Homo sapiens: one gene and its partners. The protein of the gene in region 1 interacts with the protein of each later gene in a biochemical or structural test. Each region holds a gene or a part of one and is shown in the gene's direction. Other genes may lie near its edges.

What was found.
Region 2: the proteins of SIRT1 (region 1) and BCL11A form a complex in vitro, tested with the Homo sapiens proteins (one study listed by BioGRID).
Region 3: the proteins of SIRT1 (region 1) and NMNAT1 form a complex in vitro, tested with the Homo sapiens proteins (one study listed by BioGRID).
Region 4: of the proteins of SIRT1 (region 1) and BRIP1, one has a biochemical effect on the other in vitro, tested with the Homo sapiens proteins (one study listed by BioGRID).
Region 5: the proteins of SIRT1 (region 1) and CTTN form a complex in vitro, tested with the Homo sapiens proteins (one study listed by BioGRID).
Region 6: the proteins of SIRT1 (region 1) and CLOCK form a complex in vitro, tested with the Homo sapiens proteins (one study listed by BioGRID).
Region 7: the proteins of SIRT1 (region 1) and BAZ1B form a complex in vitro, tested with the Homo sapiens proteins (one study listed by BioGRID).

What each region holds. Positions count from the first base shown.
Region 1 is NC_000010.11:67,901,656-67,905,868, forward strand, and holds part of SIRT1 (NAD-dependent protein deacetylase sirtuin-1), read left to right. Parts: intron 1-4,213. UniProt on the Homo sapiens protein: NAD-dependent protein deacetylase that links transcriptional regulation directly to intracellular energetics and participates in the coordination of several separated cellular functions such as cell cycle, response to DNA damage, metabolism, apoptosis and autophagy.
Region 2 is NC_000002.12:60,466,232-60,470,444, reverse strand, and holds part of BCL11A (BCL11 transcription factor A), read left to right. Parts: intron 1-1,611; coding exon 1,612-1,713; intron 1,714-4,213. UniProt on the Homo sapiens protein: Transcription factor. Associated with the BAF SWI/SNF chromatin remodeling complex. Binds to the 5'-TGACCA-3' sequence motif in regulatory regions of target genes, including a distal promoter of the HBG1 hemoglobin subunit gamma-1 gene.
Region 3 is NC_000001.11:9,977,502-9,981,714, forward strand, and holds part of NMNAT1 (nicotinamide/nicotinic acid mononucleotide adenylyltransferase 1), read left to right. Parts: intron 1-3,529; coding exon 3,530-3,669; intron 3,670-3,754; coding exon of another isoform or gene 3,755-3,798; exon of another isoform or gene 3,799-4,213.
Region 4 is NC_000017.11:61,776,402-61,780,614, reverse strand, and holds part of BRIP1 (Fanconi anemia group J protein), read left to right. Parts: intron 1-213; coding exon 214-354; intron 355-1,836; coding exon of another isoform or gene 1,837-1,875; exon of another isoform or gene 1,876-2,369; intron 2,370-2,435; coding exon of another isoform or gene 2,436-2,495; intron 2,496-4,052; coding exon 4,053-4,213. UniProt on the Homo sapiens protein: DNA-dependent ATPase and 5'-3' DNA helicase required for the maintenance of chromosomal stability. Acts late in the Fanconi anemia pathway, after FANCD2 ubiquitination.
Region 5 is NC_000011.10:70,415,001-70,419,213, forward strand, and holds part of CTTN (src substrate cortactin), read left to right. Parts: intron 1-662; coding exon 663-717; intron 718-2,012; coding exon 2,013-2,123; intron 2,124-4,213.
Region 6 is NC_000004.12:55,536,724-55,540,936, reverse strand, and holds part of CLOCK (circadian locomoter output cycles protein kaput), read left to right. Parts: intron 1-4,213. UniProt on the Homo sapiens protein: Transcriptional activator which forms a core component of the circadian clock.
Region 7 is NC_000007.14:73,473,231-73,477,443, reverse strand, and holds part of BAZ1B (tyrosine-protein kinase BAZ1B), read left to right. Parts: coding exon 1-576; intron 577-4,213. UniProt on the Homo sapiens protein: Atypical tyrosine-protein kinase that plays a central role in chromatin remodeling and acts as a transcription regulator. Involved in DNA damage response by phosphorylating 'Tyr-142' of histone H2AX (H2AXY142ph).

The sequences.
Region 1 (4,213 bases):
GGTACATACTAAAATTTATTAAGTGGCGACTGGCAGTTTAACTAATTGACATTCTCTTGTGTTAGGTTAATACAGGGGTTGGCGTACTATGGCCTCAGTCCAAATGTGGCCCACTCCATGTTTTTGTATAGGCTGTGAGCTAAGCATTAAGCATTAATTTATTACTTAAATCAACAAATAAAGTTTATGTGGTGTACAACATGATGTTTTGATGTGTGTACATTATGGAATGGCTAACTCAAGCTAATATTCATTACTTCACATACTTTTTTTTGGTGGTGAGAACATTTAAAATGTACTCTTAATAATTTTCAGGTATACAATATTTGTTTTTGTTTTTGTTTTTGTTTTGAGACGAAGTCTCGCTCTTGTCCCCAGGCTGGAGTGCAGTGGCGCTATCTTGGCTCACTGCAACCTCCGCCTCCCAGGTACAAGCGATTCTCCTGCCTCAGCCTCCCAAGTAGCTGGGATTACAGGCGCCTGTCTCCACGCCCGGCTAGTTATTGTATTTTTAGTAAAGACAGGGTTTCACCATGTTGGCCAGGCTGGTCTCAAACTCCTGACCTCAGGTGATCCGCCTGCCTCAGCCTCCCAAAGTGCTGGGATTACAGGCGTGAGCCACCGCGCCCGGCTACAATATGTTCTTAATTATAGTCAGCAATAGATCTCCTGAACTTATTCTTCCCAGCGTCTTCCCAATCCCACCTCCACCCCCTGCTAATAATTAATTTTAAATGACTGGGGAAAAAATTGAAAGAACTGTTTCATGACACTTGAACATTATATAAAATTTTCATGTCAGTGTTCATAAATACAAACTTTTATTAGAACATAGCCATACTATTTATATATTGAAATACAGTTGAATTTGTCATATGACCAATTTATTAGTATTGATTAAGATGTTGAGCAGTTTATTCAAGTGTGGTTTTGTGGAATGAAAGAGACAGGAGGGATTATGAGGACTCTCCTTAGCAGGATTGATGCATTTCACTTTTTTTGACAGGAAGGAAAGTTTAGGTTCTATTTTCTCAGCAACTCTACTTAACTGCCTCCATCTGAACTATATATAGGAGGGGGTGGATATCAGCAAAGATTAACATCAGTAAATTTTGATGAATTCTCTAAAAATTCTGATTTTTAAAGAGGGAATTTTGGCTGGGCACAGTGGCTCACACCTGTAATCCTAAGCACTTTGGGAGGCCAAGGCAGGTGGATCACCTGAGGTCTGGAGTTTGAGACCAGCCTGGCCAACATGGTGAAACCCTGTCTCTACTAAAAACAAATTAGCTGAATGTGGTGGCGCGCACCTGTAGTCCCAGCTCCTTGGGAGGCTGAGGTGGGAGAATTGCCTAAACCCAGGAGAGGTGGAGGTTGCAGTGAGCCGAGATTGTGCCATTGCACTCCATCCTGGGTGACAGAGCGAGACTCTCAAAAAAAAAGGTGGGTGTGAATTTTGTTATGTTGTGCGGGCTGGAGTGTAGTGCCCATCCATTGGCACGATCATAGAGTACTACAGCTCCCTAACTCCCAGACTCAAGTGATTCTCCCTCCTCTGTCTCCCCAGTAGCAGGAACTACAGGCCTGTGCCACCATGCCCAGCTTTCTTAGTCTTGAGGGACTGCATTTACACCTATGCCTTTTACTCTAGGGTCTTTTATTCATATTGCTAGAAATTTGGAGAAGAAAGAAAGGCATAATCTCTGCAGAAAAGCCATTATTTCTGCAGATAGTTCTTTTTTTTTTTGAGATGGAGTCTTTCTTTGTCACCCAGGCTGGAGTGCAGTGGTGTGATCTAGGCTCACTACAAGCTCCACCTCCTGGGTTCACGCCATTCTCCTGCCTTAGCCTCCCGAGTAGTGGGACTACAGGCACCCGCCACCATGCCCAGCTAATTTTTTTTTGTATTTTTTAGTAGAGACGGGGTTTCACCATCTTAGCCAGGATGGTCTCGATCTTCTGACCTTGTGATCCGCCGACCTCGGCCACCCAAAGTGCTGGGATTACAGGCATGAGCCACCACATCCGGCCAATTTCTGCGGATAGTTCTAAGCTTTAGTTTTGACCACGTTGGTTGCCTATGGCCAATTCCTGGATTATTTGCATGTTTCCAGACACAGCTATGTGAAAGCAGGGTTTGTTTTAATAGTGTTTTGAGCCTTTGATTCCAGTTCTGCTTCCACTCTTGGTCTATAAGGATCCCTATGGCAGCAACAGAATGGCCCAGCCCTCATGATTGGTTGCTTAAAAAGGCTTTAGGATATTCAAACTGGGTGGCCTGTCTTGTTTGGAATAGGACTAAGCATGTCACACTTTCACCATGGAAGAGTTAATCCATATTCTATCTGTAAGTTGTATCTCCAGTCATTGGTTTTCAACAAGTGGTCCTATCTTAGGAGGAGTGGTATATTAGAACAGTCCTTCCAGAGTAATTTTTTTCATTATTTCAGATTTTTTAGTTTTTTTTGTTTGTTTTTTTTTTTTTTTTTTTTAAAGGCTCTCACTCTGTCACCCAGGCTGGAGAGCAGTGATACGATCATAGCTCACTGGAACCTCTACCTCCCTGGGCTCAGGTGATCCTCCCACCTCAGCCTTCTGAGTTTCTGGGACTACAGGCATGAACCGTGAGGCCCAGCTAATTTTTGTGATTTTTGTGTTTTTTGTAGAGTCAGGGTTTCTCCATGTTGCCCAGGCTGGTCTCGTACTCCTGGTCTCAAGTAACCTGCCCGCCTCGGCCTTCCAAAGTGCTGGGATTAGAGGTGTGAGCCACCACACCTGTACTACTACTTTTAGTTTGAACACTATATTTAAATCTAATAATTCAGACATGGCCCATTTCATACTTGACAGAAAGTATGAGTCAAAGACTCAAATCATTCAGATTCTCACATATGTAAAACGTACGCTTGGCCGGGTGCAGTGGCTCACGCCTGTAATCCCAGCACTTTGTGAGACCAAGGTGGGCGGATCACCTGAGGTCAGGAGTTCAAGACCAGCCTGACCAACATGGAGAAACCCCGTCTCTACTAAAAATACAAAATTAGCTGGGGTGGTGGCACATGCCTGTAATCCCAGCTATTCAGGAAGCTGAGGCAGGAGAATCACTTGAACCCGGGAGGTGGAGGTTGTGGTGAGCTGAGATCGCGCCATTGCACTCCAGCCTGGGCAAAAAGAGCGAAACTCTGTCTCAAAAAAAAAAAAAAAAGCAGGCTTATAAAATAAAACAAAAATGTCCCTTATGATTTGTCTTAAAGGTAGTTGAATTAATAAGAGCTAAATCTAGTGTCCCATACATCTTTGTGTTTCTTACTCTACCCTTTAGAAAGGGTGGGGGTGGACGTGGATAAGGCACACAGTTAATTCAGGGACGGTGGAGTCTTGGTACTTGCTCTTTTTCCCTGACCTTGCTTTGGAGTTATTTTATTTTTTAAATTCTGCATTTGGCATGCTATTATCACTTGCTTACTATTATAGGTCCTATTTTATCTGTTGCCTAGCATATTCTCATAGTGCCTAAAATACTCTAAAAGCTATTTCCAGAGGGAGCTTTAATGAGACATACAATGCTTAATCTCTCAAATGTAAATGTACTAGAACAAAGCATTCTGGGGAAGAAAACAGTGGTTGATTTAACTGAACTCACTTTTCCAAAACAGTGGCTTTTGATTTTCTGTAAACATTGACTTTATTAAGCTTTTCCCTTGCTACTATATGCACTCTCTATTTCTTAAATTGCAAAGAGTTATTCATGAAATTTGTGATAAATATTTGAATCTAAGGCAACGTTTTTGGATTCTTTATACGAGGTTTTTAGCAGCATGTGTACATGTATGTGATAGCTGTTAACGGAATTCACTTAAGTTTTACTTAGAAGCCTGGGTAGTAGAACCTAGAAGTTGCAGTGGGAATTTTTTTTTAATTTGAAAGATTAAATAGGTAAAAAGTCATCTTTAATCTCTATTAAACTTTTTTGTATAATGTCAGAAGTGAAAGTTCCCCACATCTGCTTACAGCCTGTTTGTATCCTTCCTGACTTGATTGATTAAATGGACATCTCTATATACATATGCATATAATTTCAATTTTTGCTTAGTAACAAAAACAAAAGTTACACATACTGGTGACTAATTTGCTTTTTTCACGTATGTCATGAACCATTTTCCAGGGCAGTTCATCTAGATCTCCCTCAATTCTTTTTAATGGCTACATATTC
Region 2 (4,213 bases), on another chromosome or scaffold:
TTAGTGAACGGCTGAGGCAAAAACAAGTGCAAAGATGGATTCTCAGATTTCTCATTGAAAAATACCATGACAAAATCTGTAGTAATTTTACGCCACACTCTCAATTCACTTGACGTAAACAGTCAAATGTAGACATACTTGTTTGTTAAGTCCGGTCTTCCTGCTTGTGTTGGTTCACTTTGTGGTGTTTATTTTGTTTTGGGTCAGAGAGGATGAAATGTCTCTGTAGATGTTCTCAGGCTAGGTGGTGCTTCCACCAGGGCTTCCCTCTGCAGGCCTGGTAACAGCAGACCTATGCTGTCTGTGTAAGAGCCTTCTCAGCAGCACACCATCGTTACCCACCAGGCTCCTTGCGAAAGGAAATCTTGTCCCAACTGCCTTGGCTGTGCTTGGCAGTGTGCTCTATATAAGGAGAACAGGATGTATTTTACACTTGAGACCTGCTATCCTAGAGTACAACAACAACACTTCTAAGTGCTCTTAATATTAAGCTAATGGAAAACATACTGTTTGTTCACCATCAAAGTCTGTTTTTCTTGTCTCCCGCCCTCCCCAATCATCATGAACTCCAAACCTCTAGAACACACAGAGCGTCTCCTGCACCATCTATCCTCCAGTCTGTCTCAAGATGGACAGCTACATGGTTAGTTAGCTAGAGGAGGACTTGGAAAAGCTAGGCACTTACCACATAAACCGTAAAATCCCCAGATTGCACAAACCAAATTTTCCTCTTCTCAAAAAAATCTCAGTGCTACAAATGTTTCATTGACTATTAGATTCATTTTATTAGTGTGAGAAGTCACTTGTCTTCACCAGAGTACAACAAAGTGCAGTAAAATGGTGAAGATGGGTCAGGGTTTCTGGGTGCTGGCATTATTGGAATGCTGGTTCTTTCCTTGTCATTTAATGGTCAAAGTTATTTGGACCCCAGAAGTCTAATCTTTATCTTCCATTGCTTTGTATTGTGAGAAGCCACATCTGTGTAAGGTTTCCAGTTGACAGGATTCTAGAGTATGGCCCAGCTCAGTCCAGAAATGCCCAGGTTTCCCCTATCACTGAAGGCGCTATCATAAATATAGCATGGGAAGAGGGGGGCAGAGGGACAGAGAAAGCAAAGTGGGACTCTGTCCCATAAAAAACGATTCACAAATCTACTCATTTCCTATCAGCATTTTGCTTTTTGCTTGGGTTTGTCTATAAAGTAAAGTTAATGTATGCATGTAAACCAGCCTTGCAGATAAAATCCCCCCATGTTTCCAGGCTACCCACAATATTACCAGTTTTCCCCTTGCTGCTTACACATCTTCTTTCCACAAGACAATAATCAAACAACAACAAATAAATAAGCAAATGAACCAAAGACCACCTCTCCCCTTTCCTAAAACAAACCCTTTCACTTTTGTCAAAAAGACCGAAATTGAAAACAAAACAGAAACTCTGGGAAATAACTCACCACTCTTCTTTTGTTTCAGGCCTTGGGCCTGTTAACTATCTGCAAGGCTGTTGTAATGATGTTGTAATCTATTTTAATGGAATTGAAATGTGATATCCTGTGGTTTATGATGCACGTTGTTTGTAGCTGTAGTGCTTGATTTTGGGTTTCTTTCACAGATAAACTTCTGCACTGGAGGGGCCTCTCCTCCCCTCGTTCTGCACATGGAGCTCTAATCCCCACGCCTGGGATGAGTGCAGAATATGCCCCGCAGGGTATTTGTAAGTTGAGCCTTATTTCTTCTACAAATGTCCATGTGTATAGAGATGAGAATTTCTGGAAATTGCCCTTACTTTTTAAGTACTGAAGGAGTTACTTCCAAAATAGATTGTCATATGTATTATTCCATTACTCACTTGGCAGCCGCTCCCCACTCCACTCAGCCCCAGAGGGACTTCTTCCCTCCCCTTTTTCTTTCCTCACTGGAGGCTGGGAGCTGATAGTAGCTCATCCCTGTGGGTCTTCTCCCCAGGGTCTTGTCTTGCTCCGTGGCTAGTGATTGAAGATGCCTGTGCCTCTGGAGCCCATTTTATTACTGGACATTCACTCCTGTGGCCTCATTTAGGACTTTGGGTATAGTCCATGGCACACATCTTTAGCCAAGGCCAGAATCAAAAGGAGTCAGTTTAGGGTTATTCCAGAGTTATTCCAATGCATATTCCTTATGTATTTACATGTGTATTTGAACATAGTATATGTTGTATATTCATGCCCACACATAATTTTGACTAATTTTTCTCCTGGTTTTAGAGAAAAATGCACATCATTGTAGTTAAAATGTGAAGGCTCTACTATCACCACCACCACCACCACCATCACCACCACCACCACAACCACCACTGCCACCATCACCACCACCACCACAACCACCACCATCACTACCACCACCACCATCACCACCAGTACCATCACCACCATCACCACCACTACCACCACCACCACCATCACCACCACCACCATTACCACCACCATCACTACCACCACCACCATCACCACCAGTACCATCACCACCACCACCATCACTACCACCACCACCACCACCACCATTACCACCACCATCACTACCACCACCACCATCACCACCAGTACCATCACCACCAGTAGCATCACCACCACCACCACCATCACCATCACCACCAGTACCATCACCACCAGTACCATCACCATCAACACCACCATCTCCACCACCACCATTACCACCACCATCACTACCACCACCACCATCACCACCAGTACCATCACCACCAGTACCATCACCACCACCACCACCATCACCATCACCACCAGTACCATCACCATCATCACCACCATCACCACCACCACCATTACCACCACCATCACTACCACCACCACCACCATCACCACCACCACCATTACCACCACCATCACTACCACCACCACCATCACCAGTACCATCACCATCACCATCACCACCAGTACCATCACCATCATCACCACCATCACCACCACCACCATTACCACCACCATCACCACCACCACCATTACCACCACCATCACTACCACCACCACCATCACCAGTACCATCACCATCACCATCACCACCAGTACCATCACCATCATCACCACCATCACCACCACCACCATTACCACCACCATCACTACCACCACCACCACCATCACCACCACCACCATTACCACCACCATCACTACCACCACCACCACCATCACCACCACCACCATTACCACCACCATCACTACCACCACCACCATCACCAGTACCATCACCGCCATCACCACCACCATCACCACCACCACCACCACCATCACCACCACCACCACCACCATCACCACCAACACCACCATCACCACCACCACCACCACTACCACCACCATCATCACCACCACCACCACCACCACCACTGCCACCACCATTTACTTGTTCAAGTGAGCTTTTATAGTAGGGACCATTTTATGAAACTTAAATTTGTCCATTTATACAAATGTTTTCTGAAAGATACTGTTTTAGAAAATAATACAGTTTGCTTCTCTGTGTAGGAACACATGGTATGAATCATGCATGGCTAAAAGGTTAGGGGGTGGGCAGTGATTCCACCCTAAACACAAAAAAGCAGGTTCAAGAAGAAAAGAAGTGTGACATCTAATTTTTATTTGAAAGTAAATGAAAAATAACCTGCTGTGGAAAGAAAAAAAAAGAAAAGGAAAAAGGTCATGGAGAGAGAATAACAAAGAGCAAGATGCCAGAGTTAAGGCTCTAAGGGGGACTGTTTTTAGATGGGAGGGAGATGACACTTACCCATCTTGTAAATGGTATCTGAAGAGCAGGGCATGCACCCTGAGACCAGATTCAAAGCCAGTTGTTTATTTTTGTTAACTCCTAGGTAATCCTAGGTAACAAAGAGTTATTGTGTGAATTTCATAAGCCCTCAGGTCCTGAGGGCTGGGTGGTTCAGGGGTTAAAAGCACCTCATCTGCTCCCTTCCCCCAAGCTGGGCCTAAGCCTGGGTTAGGTCACAGATTGCAGAAGGTTTAGGAGGTTGGGCTCACGGTTTCTAGTCCCTGCATGCTGGCTGGGTGGGGAGAGCTCTCCTGTTGCTGGGGGCATCTGGGGCCTGCATGGGGCTGTGGAAACGGAGCCACTTTTGGAGGGAAGGGATAGAAGGGAGTTGAGCAGTTCAGAGGAGGGTGGAGTTGAGAGGCCAAGGGCTGTTGCCAGGGAAACATAGTTCTCGGTCTTCAGCC
Region 3 (4,213 bases), on another chromosome or scaffold:
GACTAGGAAATAGAAACCCACTCTGGATATTTTAAGTGGAAAGAGATTTAAGTACTTAGGCAAAAAGTACTTAAAAGAGCTGAGGCCGGGCGTGGTAGCTCATGACTATAATCCCAGCACTTTGGGAGGCTGAGGCCGGCAGATCACCTGAGTCCAGTAGTTCAAGACAAGCCTGGCCAACATGGTGAAACCCTGTCTCTACTAAAAATACAAAATTAGCTGGGCCCATACCTGTAATCCCAGCTACTAGGGAGGCTGAGGCAGGAGAATTGCCTGAGCCTGGGAGGCAGAGGTTACGGTGAACTGAAATTGTGCCACTGCACTCCAGCCTGGGCAGCAGAATGAGACTGTCTCAAAAAACAACAACAAAAAAAAGTAAAAGGGCTGGAGAAGTGGAAGTCAGGGTCACTCCTCCGATGTTGCCGTCAGAGTTCAACAAACCAATTCCGCTTCTGCTGCTATTGAACTGTCTCAGTCTCCTGAAGTTGGTGACGGACAGTGGACTCCAGCGTCTAGCCACCACACCCACACTAGAAAGGATTACTGGCTATAAATAGCGCAATAATAGGATCAGGCCGGGCATGGTGGCTCACACCTGTAATCCCAGCACTTTGGGAGGCCGAGGTGGGTGGATCACCTGAGGTCAGGAGATCGAGACCACCCTGGCCAACATGGCAAACCCCGTCTCTACTAAAAATACAAAAATTAGCCAGGCGTGGTGGCACATGCCTATAGTCCCAGCTACTTGGGAGGCTGAGGTGGGAGAATCCCTTGAACCCGGGAGGTGGAGGTTGCAGTGAGCCGAGATTGCGCCACTGCACTCCAGCCTGGGTGACAGAGTGAGACTCCGTCTCAAAAAAAAAGATTACTTGTCAGGCTCCACAGTCCCAGGATGATGGCCTCTGTCCTCCTTCTGCCTTCCAAATCTCTCAGGAGAGAATCTCATTAGCAGAAATCGCAGTCAAGTCCACAGCCTGCTGCAAGGACCTCTGGGAAGTGTGTTGGGCAGGATTGGGCACTGAGTCAGTAGGAAGTATCTCACACAGTGATCTCTCAAGAGGACTTCCTTTTCAGACTTGGCAGGGAGAAGAGTCTCCACTGCTTGATGGCAAAAAATTCTCCCATGAGGGAGCAAGTTCCTGGGCCACAGCCCTACCCGACCCTCTGGCTTTATAGTAACCTTATTGCCCATTAAATAGTCAACTCAGCTGCTCAGAAGGGTTGGGATGTAGGGGAATAAAGGCCCACAGTTGGATCCCACAAGTGTAGTTGATGTTATTTGGGTAACATTGCACAGTTTGAAAACAGTGGGCACCCTGCTGCCAGCCCAGAATAGAGCTATACACAAATCCTGCTTAGGGCCCCTTCCTTTAAGGCCTCAGGCCCTTGCCGCTCTAGGACCTTCTCCTTGGCGTTCTGGTTCTTTGTCACAAGATTAAGCCACACTCTTCCATGGTCAAGAGTGTGGGCTCTGGACCAGACTGCTGGGGTTCAAGTCCTGGCTCTGCTATTAATACTTTTAAGTTAAATGACCTTAGGCAAATTAGTCAGTGTCCTCTGTCAATGGGGTAATAAACAATTCTGATATGAGAGATGAGCAGCACATTAAAACCAGAAGTATTTTCAGTGAAACTAGCTGCAAGGTGGCAGTAATATAGTCGCTTTGTAATAACCAAAATGTTCAGGCTGATCATGGTGGCTCACATCTATAGTCCCAGCACTTTGGGAGTCTGAGGCAGGAGGATTGCTTGAGGCCAGGAGTTCAAGACCAGTGTGGGCAACATAGTGAGACCTCATCTCTCCAAAAAACTAAAGTTAGCTGAACATGGTGGCACGTGCCTGTAGTCGCAGCTATCTGGGAGGCTGAGGCGGTAGGATCACTTGAGCCCAGGAGTTTTGGTTGCAGCGAGCTATGATTGTGCCACTGTGCTCCATCCTGGGCAATAGAGTGAGCCTGTGTCTCTGAAAAACAAACCAAAAAAACCCCAAAACATTCACTCAATCAAATTGTTATTGAGGCTGGGCGCAGTGGCTCACGCCTGTAATCCCAGCACTTTGGGAGGCCTAGGCGGGCAGATCACAAGGTCAGGAGATCGAGACCATCCTGGCTAACATGGTGAAACCCTGTCTCTACTAAAAATACAGAAAAAATTAGCCGGGCGTGGTGGTGGGCGCCTGTAGTCCCAGCTACTCGGGAGGCTGAAGCAGGAGAATGGCGTGAACCTAGGAGACGGAGGTTGCAGTGAGCTGAGATCGTGCCACTGCACTCCAGCCTGGGCGACAGAGTGAGACTCCATCTCAAAAAAAAAAAAAAAAATTGTTATTGAATGCCTCCTCATAGACTCTGCTAGGAGCTGGAGTAGCAACTGTAAGCCTCCTTTCTCCTTCCCTTACGGAGATAATAATATTTATGATATAGGATGTTGAGAAGATTTTTTTTTTCTTTTGAGGCGGAGTTTTGCTCTTGTTGCCCAGGCTGGAGTGCAATAGCGCAATCATGGCTCACTGCAACCTCCACCTCCTGGGTTCAAGCGATTCTCCTGCCTCAGCCTCCCGAGTAGCTGGGATTATAGGCATGTGCCACCACACCCGGCTAATTTTCTATTTTTAGCAGAGACAGGGTTTCTCCATGTTGGTCAGGCTGTGTCTCGAACTCCTGACCTCAGGTGATCCACCCGCCTTGGCCTCCCAAAGTGCTGGGATTACAGGTGTGAGCCACCACGCCCAGTCGAGAAGATTTTTAATTTTTTTTAGTCTTCCACAACAGTCATCTTATGTTGAGAAGACTTAATCAGATAATCCATGTAAAGGATTCAGTGTAATGTGTGGCATATGATAAATAATGTTGGCCAGGCACCTATAATCCCAGCACTTTGGGAGGCTGAGGCGGGCAGATCGCTTGAGGTCAGAAGTTCAAGACCAGCCTGGCCAACATGATGAAACCCCGTCACTACTAAAAATACAAAAAAAAATTGGCTGAGCGTGGTGGTGCGCCCCTGTAATCCCAGCTGCTCGGGAGGCTGAGGCAAGAGAATTGTTTGAACCCAGGAGCCAGAGGTTACAGTGAGCTGAGATCACACACTGCACTCAGCCTGGGCGTCAGAGCAAGACACCATCTCAAAATAATAAATAAATAAATAATGTTAATGATATTCTTTTTTTTTTCTTTTTTTGAGATGGAGTCTCACTCTGTCGCCCAGGTTGGAGTGCAGTGGTGCGGTCTTGGCTCACTGCAACCTCTGCCTCCCAGGTTCAAGTGATTCTCCTGCCTCAGCCTCCCGAGTAGCTGGGATTACAGGTGCCCGCCACCACACCCGGCTAATTTTTTGTATTTTTAGTAGAGACGGGGTTTCACCGTGTTAGCCAGGATGGTCTCGATCTTCTGACCTCGTGATCCGCCCACCTCGGCCTCCCAAAGTGCTGGGATTACAGGTGTGAGCCACTGTGCCCAGCTATAAATAATGTTAATGATATATTCTAATGGAGCATGTGAGAAAGAGAAATATTCTATTGTTTTGTTGTTTTATAGACACCATCAAGAGAAATTGGAGGCTAGTGACTGTGATCACCAGCAGAACTCACCTACTCTAGAAAGGCCTGGAAGGAAGAGGAAGTGGACTGAAACACAAGATTCTAGTCAAAAGAAATCCCTAGAGCCAAAAACAAAAGGTTTGTATGTTTTAGCAGGACCCACGGACTAGAGTTGATAAGATTCTGTAGCTGAGCAAACCCCTGTGTATTTTTTTTTTTTTAGATGGAGTCTCGCTCTATCACCCAGGCTGGAGTGCAGTGGCATGATCTCAGCTCACTGCAAGCTCTGCCTCCTGGGTTCATGCCATTCTCCTGCCTCAGCCTCCTGAGCAGCTGGGACTACAGGTGCCTGCCACCACGCCTGTCTAATTTGTTTGTATTTTTAGTAGAGACGGGGTTGCACCATGTTAGCCAGGATGGTCTTGATCTCCTGACCTCATGATCCGCCCACCTCGGCCTCCCAAAGTGCTGGGATTACAGGCGTGAGCCACAGCGCCTGGGCCTTATTTTTTTTGTTTTATAGAGATGGGGTCTCACTATTTTGGCCAGGTTGGTCTTGAACTCCTGGCCCCAAGCAGTCCTCCTGCCTTGGCCTCCCAAAGTGTTAGGATTACAGGTGTCAGCCACTATGCCTGGCCTTTATTTTCATTTTATATTGCATACTTGTGGGTGTCTGGAAAAT
Region 4 (4,213 bases), on another chromosome or scaffold:
CTGGGACTATAGGCATGTGTCACCATGCCCGGCTAATTTTTGTATTTTTTGTAGAGACGGGGTTTCACCATATTGCCCAGGCTGGTCTCAGACTCCTAGACTCAAGCGATCTTCCTGCTTCAGCCTCCCAAAGTGCTGGGATTACAGGTGTGAGCCACTTTGCCCAGCCTCTTCTAAAGATAATTTTATTTATCTAATGTTGTTTTCTTTTAGGCCTTTTCAGATATTAATGGCAAAGTTCAGACCATTGTTTTGACATCTGGTACATTATCACCAATGAAATCCTTTTCGTCAGAACTTGGTGTTACATTTACTATCCAGCTGGAGGCTAATCATATCATTAAAAATTCACAGGTTAGTTGTTGTTTTTTTTTTTGGAAGGCCTTCAGTGTTTCTACTTCAATATAACTATGTAAACAAGTTAGAAGATACCTGAAGTGCCAGCAAGTAAATCTTGGTAGGAAATTCAACATTCCAGTTTTACAATAAAAGAAAATCTGTCAGCTACTTAATGATGTGTCAACAGAAGGAAATAATCCAGTCACTTGGGATGCAAAAGGCTGTATTTCAGCTTCTTCTTCTAAGTAAGTTTTAGTTTTGTAATGAAAACAAAATTTTGATTTCTTTAATTCTCATTGTATAATTATGTTTTATTTATTGATTGATTGATTTTTGAGACAGAGTCTGGCTCTGTTGCCCAGGCTGGAGTGCAGTGGTGTGATCTTGGCTCACTCGTGTTTAAGCAATTCTCCTGCTTCAGCCTCTCAAGTTGCTGAGATTACAGGTGTGCGCCGCACGCCTGGCTAATTTTTTATTTTTTTGGTAGAGATGGGGTTTCAGCATGTTGTCCATTCTGGTCTTGAACTCCTGCCCTCAAATGATGCACTTGCCTCAGCCTCCCAAAGTGTTGGGATTACAGGCGTGAGCCACTGTGCCCAGCCTATTTATATTTTATTTATTTTATCTCTGTATTTTTATTTTTACTTTTATTTTTTGAGACAAGGTTTTGCTCTGTCACCCAGACTGGAGTGCAGTGGTGCGATCTTGGCTCACTGCAGCCTTCGCCTCCTGGGTTCCAGCGGTTCTCCTGCCTCAACCTTCTGAGTAGCTGGGATTATGGGTGTATGCCACCATGCCTGGCACATTTTTGTATTTTTAGTAGAGACGGGGTTTTGCCATTTTGGCCAGACTTTATCTTTTTAGAGACAAGGTCGCTTGCTATGTTGCCCAGGCTGGCTTCAAACTCCCAGGCTCAGGCAGTCCACCTGCCTCAGCCTCCTGAGTAGCTGGGACTACAGGCATGTACTACCATGCCCAGCTTGTATAATTATTTATGCTTCTCTTTTCCATTAGACTACAGTGTATCCTGATTCTTCCTTTTACATCCACGTTCTTCCTCTGTGCCTAGATTAATAGCTGGTATTTAGCAAGTGTTCAGCATGTTTGAATATCTGAAATGAGTTAAAAGTACTCTTATGAGTCCTATGATTTAAGATTTTAATGTTTTATAACGATGGCTACTAAATGTTATTTTAATTTTTGTGGAAATGTATAGATTGTTATTTTTCATTATGCCTTCTGGTTTCTTTTTATGAAATATTTTAAAGTGGTTAGGCACACAGGTGATGTTAAGCTGTGGTTAATGCTAAAGTGGTTAAGTTAACATCACCTGTGTGCCTAACACAATGCTAGCTCTTTATTAAGCTATATACACAGGTTTATAGGTGGGAACATTTTTGGTCCTCACAATTACTTGGGAGCAACTACGGCATTTGGTAGTTGGGAACCTAGAATGCTACTCCTATGTAACTAAGAATTGTGCTTTCCAAATGCCAGAGTGTTCCTGCTGAGAAATGTGACTATGAACAGCAGTGAAGGAAGAATACATGTTCCACGTTTTCAAGTTGCTTTCTTTAGAGACACAGATAAATATGGGAAGTTGGTAAATTCAGCATACGTTTTCTCATAAGAATGTTATTACAGGCTCTATGTTCTCAGCCTACTGCACAAAAGTCCATTTAACCTATAATGTCGCTGAATTATAATAATGTAGTTGTGCAGCTGGATTCTGTTACACTGTAATATTTTCCTTCAACTTAAAATTTAAAAAACTTTTAATTGTGGTAGAATATATATAAAATTTACCATCTTAACCATTTTTGAGTATACAGCTCAGTCTTATTAAGTATGTATATGTTGTTGTGCAACCAATCTCAAGACTTTCTCCTCTTGAAAAACTGAAACTCTGTTCCCATTAAACAACAGCTCTCTATTCTCCCCCTCTCCTCAGCTCCTGGTAACTACCATTCTGCTTTCTGTTTCTATGAATCTGATTACTATAAATACTTCATATAAGTGGAATCATAAAATATTTGTCGTTTTTGTGACTGGCTTATTTTACTTAGTAATGTCCTCAAGGTTTGTCCATGTTGCAGATAATGTCTTCAAAGTTCATCATCTATGTTGTAGCATGTGCCAGAGTTTCCTCTTTAAAGGTGAATAATGTTTCTTGTGTGTATATGCCTGTGATTTATAATATATATATTTGGTCTTCCACTCCATTTCCTGGCATACAACTCCTAAAATCCTTAGAATCTCCAAAGTGACATTTTGTATGCTAATGAGATGACTAATGGTAGGGGGCTCCTAGGTAGCATCAGGATCAGGGCTGGCCTCCGGGAAGACCAAGACATGATAGGAGAGTTGGGATTTTCACCCCCATTCCTCAACCTCTGGGGAGGGCTTGGGGGAGATGATGCTAAAGGTTAAGTTTATCTTAATGGCCAGTGGTTTAATCAATCATGCCTACATAATGAAGCCTCCATAAAAACCTAGAAGGACAGGGTTCAGAGAGCTTCCAGATAGCTGAACACTTGGAGGTTCCTGAACACTTGGAGGGTGATGTGCCTGGGAATTGAAGCTCTGAGCCCCTTCCCACATACATCTCTTTATCTGTATCCTTTGTAATATTTTTTCTAATAAATCAGTAAGTGTAGGTAAATGTGTCCCTGGGTTCTGTGAGCAGCTCTACCAAATTAATTGAACCCAAGCAGAGGGTTGTGGGATGCCCGATTTCTAGCTGATCAGTCAGAAGTGCAAGTAAAAACAACTGTGACTGGCCACAGAAATCAGGGGCAGTCTTGGGGACTGAGCCCTCAACCTCTGGGATCTGAAGTTATCATCTCCCAGTAGATAGTATCAGAATTGAATTGAATTAGAGGACACCCAGTTGATGTCTGTTGCAGAATTGATTGCTTGGTATGTGGAAAAAACCTCCCACACATTTGGTCACAGAAGTTTTCTGTGTTGATTGCTGTGGTGTGAGAGCAAAGGAAAAAGTTTGTTTTTTTCTACTCAATGCTACATTTTGATCATTCATTCATTGATTCTTTCAACTGTATTTCAAAAAATTAGAAATTTCAGAAAAGTTGGAAAGATAATATTAATATTGTGAATATCTTTATATCCTTCACCTAGATTCATCACTTGTTAACATTTTGCAAAATTTTCGTCTCTCTCCCTCTCTCTACATATAAGGGAGATAGAATTGCAAATAACTGTAAGATGTGGTGGGTGTGATTTTTTTCTATGACTAAGGATCTTTGAGCACCAATGAATTTTTGAAAGAGTAGTTCCTGTCATTTTTGAGACTTGCCTATGGCAAATTATACTGGCCTTCATCCCCAGTATTTTGGAATTATCTGATTCTGCTATTGGTATATATTCATCATTTCACTTGTTCATTTATTCACCTAACAAAAATTTGTTACATGCTTAAATTTTGCAAAGCTATTAAGTAAACAGAGACAGGTACAACCTGTTTTGCTTTCAAAGAATTTTCACTCTAAGAGAATTTAGTGATCTGCCTAAAGCAAAACATTTATAAATTAAATCTGTATACAGTTAATTGAAGGTAATAGAAAACCCCCTGACAATTTAAAAATAAATTGTTAAACTTGTTGCTTGATCTTTTATGTACATACTTCCAAATAAATACTAATTTCCATGCCTTTTTCAGGCATAACTCTAATAATGACATATTCATATTCTAGGTTTGGGTTGGTACCATTGGGTCAGGCCCCAAGGGTCGGAATCTCTGTGCTACCTTCCAGAATACTGAAACATTTGAGTTCCAAGATGAAGTGGGAGCACTTTTGTTATCTGTGTGCCAGACTGTGAGCCAAGGAATTTTGTGTTTCTTGCCATCTTACAA
Region 5 (4,213 bases), on another chromosome or scaffold:
GCAGGATGCGCTCGTGTCCAGGACCCAGGCTTTGCGTCCAGGTGTTGTTGCAGTCATCCTAGGCCCGAGCCTCTTTGATTCTCTTCGGCTCGGGTCTGTTGGCTCTTTTGTTTAATAGAGGAGCGATCAGGAGCCTGGAGGGAGCAGGGAGCTGATGCTGGTCGCAGATTGTGGCTTTGTGACATATTAGCCACGGTTCTGAATTTATGTGTCTGTGAAAGGAGGATGATCATACCTATCTCACGGGTGTTTGCTCAGATGCCCATCGCAGTGCCTGGCTGGTGGGAGTGCACCCCTGGTGGCCACTGCTATTCTCATTACTAATACTAATGTTCTCAGCATGACTTATTTGAGAAGCGAGTTTTTGTGAAGCCCGTGGAATGAATCAGCTGAGCATTCCCTGCTGCCGCATGCTGGGGAGGGCAGGTCACCAGGGATATGGCTTGGCCTGCGCCGCCCACTGGGCCTTGCAGTGGGCCTGTCCGTTTAGGATGCCAGAGCTCTTGCGTCACTGCCACCTGCACCTGGCTTAGGAACCCAGAGGTCACAGCATCATGTGTTTCATATTTTTTTAAATGTCATGTCATGAATTCAGAGAGATTGTTTCAGGGACATTGGAAAGTATTTCTCCCCACTTTTTCATGTGTTTTTGGTCGTCACAGTCTGCTGTAGGCTTTGAATACCAGGGGAAGACTGAGAAGCATGCCTCCCAGAAAGGTAAGACGCGAAAGGTGCAGAAAGAGCCCGCTCCGGGGGCCCCGATGGGGAGAGTCACAGCCACCTGAAGCCGTTTCCCCGCGCTCCGGGGGCCCTGATGGGGAGAGTCACAGCCACCTGAAGCCGTTTCCTGAGCGGTGGCTGTTGCCACAAGGAGGACTCTGCCCTCCTCTTCATGTTTCTGGATCATCTGGATACCACATGATGGATGTATTCCCCGTTACACATCCCCCTCGGAGCCCTGGCATCTGCTGTCATTGTGGGGCTTCTCCCCCTTGTAGCGGAAGCCGCCTTCCCTTCATCTGGGCAGCGCTCCTCCTGGAAAAGAGAGCTCACAGATTGATCGGCAGAAAGCTAACTTCCCCCCAAGGCTAGAAACCAGAGTTGTTAAATTCTTGTTTTCCTTATACACATACGGTCTTAACTGCTGGTGATTAATCTTGATTACATCATGCAGTCTCTTTTTTGAAAGACCAAAGCATATCGCCACCTTAAAGTTCTCAGTTTATTTTTTGCAAGCTTATTTAGTTCTTCCTCCTTTGTGTCATTGCATCATCCGCGGAACAAGCTCTCAGTCCTTACGCAGTCTCGGTGCAGTCTAGGTGGAGGTAGCTGTGGTGTGGGCAGGCGGAGGATCAGGGTCTTGTCTCCCATGTTCAGCTGCATGGCTTTCTTCATATGAGGCTTTCTCTTTCCATTTTTTTCATTTTGTTTTGTTTGTTTGTTTGTTTTGAGACAGAGTCTCGCTCTGTTGCCCAGGCTGGAGTGCAGTGGCACGATCTCGGCTCACTGCAACCTGCGCCTCCTGGGTTCAAACGATTCTCCTGCCTCAGCCTCCCAAGTAGCTGGGATTACAGGTGTGTGCCACTACCCCTGGCTAGTTTTTCTATTTTTTAGTAAAGATGGGGTTTTGCCACGTTGGCCAGGCTGGTCTCAAACTCCTGGCCTCAAGTGATCCGCCCACCTCAGCCTCCAAAGTGCTGGTTCTTTGTATGAAGCTTTCCAGCTTTTACCTGAGCAGTTGATTTTCAAAGTGGGCATGCAGCGTCATTTCTGACTACACAAAGGAACTGCCCTGTAACAGCTGACAGGGCCCAGAACCCCCCCATGCACCTGTTGTGAAACAGGGTCCAGCGTCACCTGTATGGAGCAGTGGGTGGCTTGTTGTACATTTTAAAATGTGCGCTTGATGTGTTTGTGAGTTGTAACCCCTACACACTTTTGCTTAGTTTAACAAAAGGAACAGTGTAGTTCGTCCTCAGGCCCCCGTGCTAATTGCTGCCCTGTCTCTCCAGACTACTCCAGTGGTTTTGGCGGCAAGTATGGCGTGCAGGCCGACCGAGTAGACAAGAGCGCGGTGGGCTTCGACTACCAGGGCAAGACGGAGAAGCACGAGTCACAGAGAGGTGGGGCGGACCCCACGGTCTGTAATCACGCGTTTGCTCCAGAAACACCCACGAGGGCATTTTCTCTCTGCACACGTGATTGTTGTAGATTTTTTAACTGAAAATGTTTGGTGTTCTTTTCGTACCAGTGTATGTGGGCTTTTCCTAATTCGAATGGCTGCACAGTTCCCCATCGTATGAGGATTCCATAGTCCATGTAACCATTCCTTTTTTGAATGTGGAATTTAGGTTATTTATTTATTTATTTATTTATTTTTGGTAGAGATGAGGTCTTGCCGTGTTGCCCGGACTGGTCTTGATCTCCGTGGTCTCAAGCAATCCTCCCCCACCTTGGTTTCCTTAAGTGCTGGGATTACAGGTGTGACCTGTAAATTTTTTTTTTTTTTCTTTTAGACGGAGTCTCGCTCCGTTGCCCAGGCTGGAGTGTAGTGGCGTGATCTCTGCTCACTGCAACCTCCACCTCCCTGGTTCAAGCAATTCTCGTGCTTCAGCCTCCCGGCTAGCCGGGATTACAAGCACACGCCACCACGCCCAGCTAATTTTTGTATTTTTAGTAGAGACGGAGTTCTGCCATGTTGCCCAGGCTGGTCTTGAATTCCTGACCTCAGGTGATCGCCCTGCCTTGGCCTCCCAAAGTGCTGGGATTACAGGTGTGAGCCACTGCGCCCAGCTGAAACTTGACTGCAGGGAACATTCTTGTACCTGTGTTTTGTTCACAAGTGATTATTCAAAAGAATCAACTCCTAGACATGGAATTGCTGGGTCGAAGGCTATTGAATGTAAAATTTCCATAGATACTGCCAAGTTGTCCTTGGAGGCTGTGCTGAGTTCTTCCTTCCCCACTGCATAGCCTGTACACCATCACTCAGAGCGTTTCCCAGGGCTGCAGAGGCTGTGGCCTGCCTGTTTCCCTGTGCCTCTTGTTTGGCCTGCACATTTAAATTTTTAAAAATATTTGCCAACATTTGAAAAGTGAGAGCTTGACTATTTAAAAACTCAAAAAAAAAAAAAATTACCCCAAAGCAAGAAACACCACTGGAAGATCCGACCATGCTGGCTTGGCATTTCCCTGAGGAAAGTGCCGGTGGCCTGGAGGGCAGCTTGGCTTGTAGTTTGTCGCGGCCTGGCCTGGCCTTGCCTTCCTGCCGGTCAGGCCTTGCCTGCCGCACAGAGCTGCTTGCCTCTGCTCTCTGCCTCTTTCCTGGGAACAGTCCATTCCTCCTCTTCCCGACACCACACAGTTGTGAGCAGCGCATGCTCCGCGAAGCTGCATGAGTGTGTGACTCCAGGGAGCCAGGGAGCACAGGCCGAGCACCTGGGCAGACGCAAGGCTCCTTGGATGCTTCAGGCCTTCTCTCCCAGGCCTTGATCCTCTGCCTTGTGCTGTTAGTGGGTCCATGAGAGAGTCATGTTTTGGTGTCACAGTGACATGCTAAATGGCTTCATTCTGAGTAGAACTGAAGTTTCTGGAGGATGCTGTGTGTGTCCTATTTCCTGGCATCCCCCTGCGTGCTTCAGTTTGTGAAGAGTGGCCTTTGAAAGCCTTGCCCTTCTGCTGCCTCCTGAGCTTAGAGCCTTATCATAAACTCTCATCTCCTGCTAGCTTCTGGATGCAATGGATGATGTTACAGGAATTCATCTGCTGTACTTTATTTCTTTTTTTTTTTTTTTTGAGACGGAGTCTCTCTCTCTCGCCAGGCTGGAGTGCAGTGGTGCGATCTCAGCTCAGTGCAACCTCCTCCTTCCGGGTTCAAACAATTCTCCTGCCTCAGTCTCCTGAGTAGCCGGGATTACAGGCATGCACCACCAAGCCCAGCTAATTTTTGTATTTTTAGTAGAGGCGGGGTTTCACCATGTTGCCCAGGATGGTCTTGATCTCTTGACCTCATGATCCGCCCACCTTGGCCTCCCAAAGTGCTGGGATTACAGGTGTGAGCCACTGTGTCCAGCCTCTGCTGTACTTTAAAAAAAAAAACTTTTTTTCTTAATTCTTTTTTTTTTTTTGAGATGGAGTTTCACTCTTGTTGCTCAGGCTGGAGTGCAGTGGCGCAATCTCGGCTCACTGCAACCTTCACCTCCTGGGTTCCAGT
Region 6 (4,213 bases), on another chromosome or scaffold:
CATTTTTTACATTAATAATGACGACGATTAAGTTTCTTTTTCAAAGAGGTCACATTCAGGTACTTAACATTTTTAATTCTCATCCCAAATAGTGGAAAATTGAATGTGAGGGCTATCTGGCTGTGACATGTTACCCCATTGATCCCCAGGGTTGATTCAGCTCATCTGGCTGGCTCGGCAGGTGTCCCCTTCCTCCCTCTCCACTCCACGTGCGTCCCTCCTGAAGCTGAAGCTGCGTGCTTGGTTGAAGAGGACAACCATCCCAAATAGAGGAGGACTGGTCTTGGGTCAAGGGTATACGAGCAGCTGCGCTCCCCTGCTAGAACCTTCGAGCAAGCTCTCAAGGTCCAAATAGTGGAAAATGAAAGTACAGGTTGATTCATGTTGGCAGGTTTTGGTATCAAAAAAAAATTAAAAAGCACACATGGGGGATATACCAATAAAGGTTAGACCATATGCCTAGCTAAGAACTTATCATTTGTATTAAAATATGGTTTAATGTAAAGAGTTGCCTTTCTCCATTCCCCCCTCCCCTCCCCTCCCCTCCTCTCCCCTCCTCTCTTGCCCCCAATTAAAAAATAGCACATCCCTAATGTGGGAAACAGTAAGAAAGCATAGATTACATTTTAGGCAGGGCACAGTGGCTCACACCTGTAATCCCAGCACTTTCGGAGGCTGAGGTGGGTGGATCACTTGAGGTCAGGAGTTTGAGACCAGCCTGGCCAACATGGTGAAACCCTGTCTCTACTAAAAGTACAAAAATTAGCCGGGCATGGTGGCGGGTGCCTGTAATCCCAGCTACTTGGGAGGCTAAGGCAGGAGAATTGCTTGAACCCAGGAGGCAGAGGTTGCAGTGAGCAGAGATCACGCCATTGCACTCCAGCCTGTGCGACAGATCAAGACTCAGTCTCAAAAAAAAAAAAAAAAAATTAATATCATTGGAGATCATACCACCGAAAGTGCTGTTGTTAATCTTCTTGATTATCTATCTGCTTCCTGCATTTTGTTGAGCCATTACATAAGTATATGTATACTTATATGATGTTATGGGCTCCTAATGTAGTCCACTGCAGTGCAAGCTGTTCAGTTAACAGTGAATCATCAACATATTTTCATGTCAGTATTTTTCTGCTATGTGATTATTTTTAGTAGGTATGTAACATTCTCATCTCTGTGTAATAATTTACTTATCAATCTTCTGTTGGACATTGAAGTTGTTTTCAATTTTTAGGATAATAATACTGTCACTTCCCTATATCATGCATTTTGATACTGGCCTACCTAGTATCAGTGATTTTTTCTATTTTTGTTTCTCTGAAAATATCTCAATTTCACCTTTTTTTTTTTTTTTTTTTTTTTTTTTTGAGACAAGGTCTCACTCTGGCACCCAGGCTGGAGTGTAGTGGTGTGAACATGGCTCACTGTAGCCTCAACCTTTTGGGCTCAGGCAATCCTTCACCTCAGCCTCCTCAGTAGCTGGAACCACAGGCACATGCCACCATGCCCAGCTAATTTTTAAATTTTTTGTATAGGCGGGGTCTTGTCATGTTGCCCCGGCTGTTCTTGAACTCCTGGGCTTAAGAGATCCCCCCACCTTGGCCTCCCAAAGTGCTGGGTATAGGTGTGAGCCACCATGCACGGCAGTTTCACCTTTTTTGAAGTGGTTTTTGGTGTTTTTTTTGTTGTTGTTGTTGTTGTTTTTTTGAGACAGTCTCGTTCTGTTGCTTAGGCTGGAGTGCAGTGGCGTGATCTGAGCTCACTGCAGCTTCTGCCTCCTGGGTTCAAATGATTCTCATGCCACAGCCTCCTGAGTAGCTGGGATTACAGGCATGTGCTACCATACCCAGCTAAATTTTTTGTATTTTTAGTAGAGATAGGATTTTGCCATGTTGGCCACGCAGGTCTCCAAACTCATGGCCTCAAGTGATCTGCCCACCTTGGCCTCCCAAAGTGCTAGGATTACAGGCATGAGCCACTGTGGCTGGCCTGAAGTGTGTTTTCACTGGCTATTAAGTTCTAAGTTGGTAGTTATTTTCTTTCAACACATTAAGAATGTTTGGTTGCTTTCTGTCTTCCTTTCTTTTTGTTGAAGTCAGCTACCAGTCTTATTGAAGGCAATGTATTAGCTATATTCTTGCTGAGGATAATGTGTCTTTTATTTTTCCTTGGCTAATTTTAAGACTCTCTGTGTTACTTTTAAAGCACTTTGATGTGTTCAGATGTGGTTTTCTTTGTTGCTTTATGTTTATAGAGTTTTTTGAATCTAGCTGGATGCCTTTTAGTTTTGGAAAGTTCTGTTACCACCTTTTCATATATTCTGCCCCTTTTTTCTTTTTGGATCCTAATTACACATATATTAAACTTAATTATCATGTTCCACATGTTGAAAAAAATTTTTTTCTCTGTTTGGATATTTTCTATCGACCTGCCTTCCAGTATGCCAAAACTATCTTCTCTTTTTGTCAAAATAATCTTTTGTGTTCTTAATTTTACATTGTGGTTTTGAGTTCTAGAGTATTCCTTTGATGTTGTTTTATAGACTTGTAATAGACTCCAGTTCTCTTGAACATACTAATTATAGTTATTTAAATGCTTGTCTTTTCCAATATCGGCATCATCTATTGGTCTGTTTATCTTGTTTGTTTTTCTGTTGGTTATTGGTCATATGGTTGTATTGTTCCGTCTCTTCACATGCCTGATAAGTTTTCGAAGGAACTTACCCATTTCATTTAACTTGTTGCATTTATTGCAAAAAGTTGCTTATAATACTCTATTATTGTTCTTTTAATATCTGTAGAAAGTGTAATGAGTCTAATATCTGTATAACCTGTAGAGATTTAGTATCATTCCGAATACTAGTAATTTGTCTCTGCTCCCCTTTTCCCTGATTAGTCTGGCTAGAAGTTTATTAATTTTATTGAGGTTCTTAAAAAGTTAACTTTTAGTTTAATTGACTGCCTGTGGTTTTCTTATTTCCGCCCTGGTCTTTATTTCCTTTCCTCAGCTTACTTTTGGGTTTAATTTGTTTTCTTTTTCTGGTTTCTTAAGATAGAAGCTGAGGTCATTGATTTGTGACCTTTTTTCTTTTCTAATGTAAGCATGCTATAAACTTCCCTTTAATTGTTTATAATTTATTTATTTGTTTTTTGAGACAAGGTCTCACTACTGCTCAGGCAGTACAGTATCGTGATCATGGCCCATTGCAGCCTTGACCTCTCAGGCTCAAGTGATCCTCCCACCTCAGCCTCCTGAGTAGCTGGGACTGCAGGCATGTGCCACCATGCCTGGCTAATTTTTTATTTTTATTTTTATTTTTTTGAGACTGGGTCTCACTCCGTTGCCTAGGCTTTAGTGCAGTGGCCCAATCACGGGGTCACCACAGTGTCGACGTCTCAGGCTCAAGAGATCCTCGCACCAGAGTCTATTAAGTGCTGGGATTACAGGCGCGTGCCATCATGCCTGGCTAATTTTTGTATTTTTTGTAGAGATAGGGTTTCACTATGTTGCCCAGGCTGGTCGTCAACTCCTGAGCTCAGGCAATCCACTTGCCTCAGCCTCCCAAAGTGCTAGGATTACAGGTGTAAGCCACCACACCTGGCCAGAGTTTATTACAATTTTTTCTGAAGACAAGGATGTCACTGTGTTGCCCATGTTGGTCTTGAACTCAGTTCAAGCAATCCTCTTTCCTTGGCCTCCTGGAGTGCTGGGATACAGATGTGAGCCTCCACTCCTGGCCGTTTCCAGTTTTTGATATGTTTCCATTTTCATTCCATTCAGAGTACTTTATAATTTCTTTCCTGATGTCTTACTGGGTCTATAGTTTATTTATAAGTGTGTTATATAGTTTTCAAATATTTGAGGATTTTCCAGAGATCATTGTTATTTTTAATTTAATTCCATTGTAATGAGATAATTTTAAATTTATTCGGATTTATTTTATGGCCTAGAATATATTCTATCATTGTAAGTGTTCTTCATGTGCAGTTGAAAAGAATGTGTGTTTTGTTGTTAGGTGGAGTGTTTTACAAATGTCAGTTAGGTCAAGTCTGTTGATTGTTTTGTTTATGTCTCATAATTTTTTATTGAATGCCAGGCATTGTGTAGTAAAAAACTTAAGTAAGCATTACCAGGTAATGGTACATTTTGCCGGGTTGGGAGAGGGGTGGGGGAAGGGGAAGTTCATTTTCTATGCAGATAGGCTAGGGAGCTGTAT
Region 7 (4,213 bases), on another chromosome or scaffold:
AATTGGGAATGAAGCTGTCGGAAATCCCCTTGACTCTGCATTCTGTTTCAGAGCTGGTGCGGCTCTGCTTGCGCAGATCTGATGTTCAGGAGGAAAGCGAGGGCTCAGACACAGATGACAATAAAGATTCAGCTGCATTTGAGGATAATGAGGTACAAGATGAGTTCCTAGAAAAGCTGGAGACCTCTGAATTTTTTGAGCTGACGTCAGAGGAGAAGCTACAGATCTTGACAGCACTGTGCCACCGGATCCTCATGACATACTCAGTGCAAGACCACATGGAGACCAGACAGCAGATGTCTGCAGAGTTGTGGAAGGAACGGCTTGCTGTGTTGAAGGAAGAAAATGATAAGAAGAGAGCAGAGAAACAGAAACGGAAAGAAATGGAAGCCAAAAATAAAGAAAATGGAAAAGTTGAGAATGGGTTAGGCAAAACTGATAGGAAAAAAGAAATTGTGAAGTTTGAGCCCCAAGTAGATACAGAAGCTGAAGACATGATTAGTGCTGTGAAGAGCAGAAGGTTGCTTGCCATTCAAGCTAAGAAGGAACGGGAAATCCAGGAAAGAGAAATGAAAGGTAAAATTTCATGCTGAGAGAAAAGGGGAAGCTCTGTAGAAGATAGTAAAAGAAAGGAAATTACTGAGGTAATGGTAGGGTCTCTGTTTGTTTACTTATTTCTGTATGTAATAACCCAGCACCTATTGGTATGTATTTTATTTTTTATTAGTTCTGTTGATAATTTCATATTTCAGCTGGAGTGTTCAGCCTGGCATTCTGATTAGTTAATAAGTTAATGTGATGTTGGCATCTTTTCTGGGTTCAGTAAAGGACCAAATCTACAAATAGAAATAGTGGAAACAACATAGGACTTGGGAGTTGACTGACCTGGGTTCAGGTTCTAGCTCTGACTTAGCTGTACAGTGTTCCTTTGGGCAGATTACTTATCCGTGCCTCACTTTCCTCATATGCTTGATAAGATTGTTGTAAAATTGATTGACAAGGTATTTGAAGCCCCTAGCACGGTCACCAACTCAGATAGTAATCTGTCCTTTAAGATTTAAGAACTTAAAAATTTTGGGCTTTGATGGCTCCATCGAATCTGAACTTTTAAAAAGCAGCTTTATTAAGAAATAATCGACATACAGTATAATTAGTTCACTTATTGTGTATAATTTAGTGTTTTCAGTAGAGTCACAGATAATGTACAACCATTGCCAATTTTGTAACATTTTTATCATCTCAAAGAAACCTGCTACCCATGAACTGTCATTACCCCATTCGCCCATCCTCCCCAGCCCTGAGCAACCACTAGTCTACTTTGTCTCTATAGATTTGCTATTCTAGGCATTTTCTCTAAATGGAATTGTATAATAAATAGTCTGTTGTGACTTTCACTTAGCATAATGTTTTACATGCTACAACATGAATGAATCTTGAAAACATTATGCTAAGTGAAAGAAGCCAGTCACAAAATAGACCACCTCTATTTAGTTCTAAAACATTTTTTTTTTTTTTTTTTTGAGATGGAGTCTCGCTCTGTCACCCAGGCTAGAGTGCAATGGTTTGATCTTGGCTCACTGCAACCTCCGCCTTCTGGATTCAAGCGATTCTCCTGCCTCAGCCTCCCGAGTAGCTGGGATTACAGGCATGCGCCATCATGCCTGGCCAATTTTTGTGTTTTTGTAGAGATGGGGTTTCACCGTGTTGGCCAGGCTGGTTTCGAACTCCTGATCCACCCGCCTCAGTCTCCCAAAGTGCTGGGATTACAGGCGTGAGCCACTGTGCCCGGCCAGCCACCATGCCGGGCCAGCCACCATGCCTGGCCCCAAAACATTTTTAAAAGAAAACCCAAAAGTCACTCACTCTTCTCCCTTGTCCACATCCCCCAGCAACCACCAATCTGTTCTCTGCATCTATGGATTTACCTATTCTGGATATTTCATGTAAATGCAATCATATAATATGTAGCCTTTTTATGGCTGGCTTTTTTCACTTAGCATGTTCTCCAGGTTCATCCATGTTGTAGCATGTGTTAGTACTTCATTCCCTTTTATGGCTGGATAATATTCCATTGTTTGGATATACCACGTTTTGTTTCTCATTCATCACTTGATAAACATTTAGATTGTTTTCATCTTTTACCTATTATGAACAATGCTGCCATAAATATTCATGTATGAGTTTTTGAGTAGTCATATACTTAAATTTCTTTAGAGTAAATACCTCGGAATAAGATTGTTGGGTCATATGATTATGTTTAACCATCTGAGAAACTGCCAGACTGTTTTCCAAAGTGGCTGCACAATTTTACATGCCCACCAGCAGTGAATTAAAGGTTCTGACTTTTCTCCTTCCTCATCAATACTTGTTATTTTCTGACTTTTTGATGATAGTCATACTAGTGGGTGTGAAATGGTATCTCATTGTGGTTTTGATTTGCATTTCTTTGATGGCTAATGATGTTGAACCATCTTTTCATGTGTCTCCTGGCCACCTGTGTATCTTTGGCGAAGTATTCAGATCATTTGCCCATTATTAAATTGAGTTATCTGATTATTATTGAGTTGTAAGAGTTCTGTATATATTCTAGATACAATTCTCTGTCTGATACCTGGTCTACAAATATTTTCATCTATTTTGCGTGTTGTCCTTTTACTTTTTTTGGGGGAGACGGAGTTGCGCTCTTTTTTGTGCCCAGGCTAGTGCAGTGGCGTGATCTCAGCTCCCTGAAACCTCTGCCTCCTGGGTTCAAGTGATTCTCTTGCCTCAGCCTCCCGAGTAGCTGGGATTACAGGCGTGTGCCACCACACCTGGCTAATTTTATATTTTTAGTAGAGGTGGGTTTTCACCATGTTGACCAGGCAAGGTCTCGAACTCCTGACCTCAGGTGATCCGCACGCCTTGGCCTCCCAGAGTGCTGGGATTACAGCTGTGAGCCACTGCACCTGGCCTGTCCTTTCACTTTCTTAGTAGTATCATTTGAAGCACAAAAGTTTTTTAAATTTGATGAGGTTCATTTTATCTATTTATTCTTTTGTTACTTATAGATTTGGTGTTAGATTTAAGGATCTTTTGCCAAATCCAGGGTCATGAAGATTTACTCCTGTTTTCTTCCAAATGTCTTAATAGTTTTGCCTCTGAAATTTAGGTCTTTTATTTTCAGCTAATTTTTATAGTGTAAGGTAAAAGTCCAGCTTTATTTTTTTTTGCATGTGGCTCTCCAGTTGTCCTAGTGCCGTTTTTTGAAATGACAAACCTTTCCCCATTGAATGGCCTTGATACGCTTGTCAAAAATCATATGACTGTAGGATACGTTGGCTTATTTCTGGACTCTGAATTCTATTTCACTGATCTGTATGTCTGTCTTTATGTAAAAGCCACACTGTCTTGATAACTTTGCTTTGTAGTAAGTTTCGGAATAGGGAAGTGTTGATCTTCCAGCTTGTTCTTTTTCAACATTTTCTTTTTTATTTTATTTTGAGACAAGGTCTCATTCTGTCACCCAAGCTGGAGTGCAGCAGTGTGATCTCAGCTCACTGCAGCCTTGACCTCTTGGGCTCAAGTGGTCCTCCCACTTCGGCCTCCCGAGCAGCTGGGACTTACAGGCATGTGTCAGCACGCCTGGCTAATCTTTTTATTATTTGTGGAGGCTGGTATTGAACCCCTAAACTCAAGCAATCTTCCTGCTTCAGCCTCCTAAAGTGCTGGGATTACAGGCCTGAGCCACCAAACCCCGGCTTGAATAGTTCTTTCATTAGAAAATGTATATTCCTTTTAAAACAAATTTTAGTTTACACTACTTAAGGCCATTGAAATATTTTTGCATATGTATGCATACTGTGCCTGAGTATACATATGTAATGTGTACTTTCCATTTTATTTATTTTTTTGGATACAGAGCGTCGCTCTGTCGCTCAGGCTGGAGTGCAATGGTGCGATCTGGCTCACTGCAACCTCCACCTCCCAGGTTCAAGCTATTCTCGTGCCTCAGCCTCCTGAGTAGCTGGGATAACAAGGCATCTGCTACCACACTCAGCTAATTTTTGTATTTTTAGTAGAGATGGGGATTCACCATGTTGGTTAGGCTGGTCCCAAAACTCTGACCTCAAATGAACTGCCTGCCTCAACTTGCCAAATTGCTGGGATTAAAGGCATGAGCCACCGCCCCTGGCCATTGTATTAACATTTTAAAGACATATGAACAGGCCAGGCT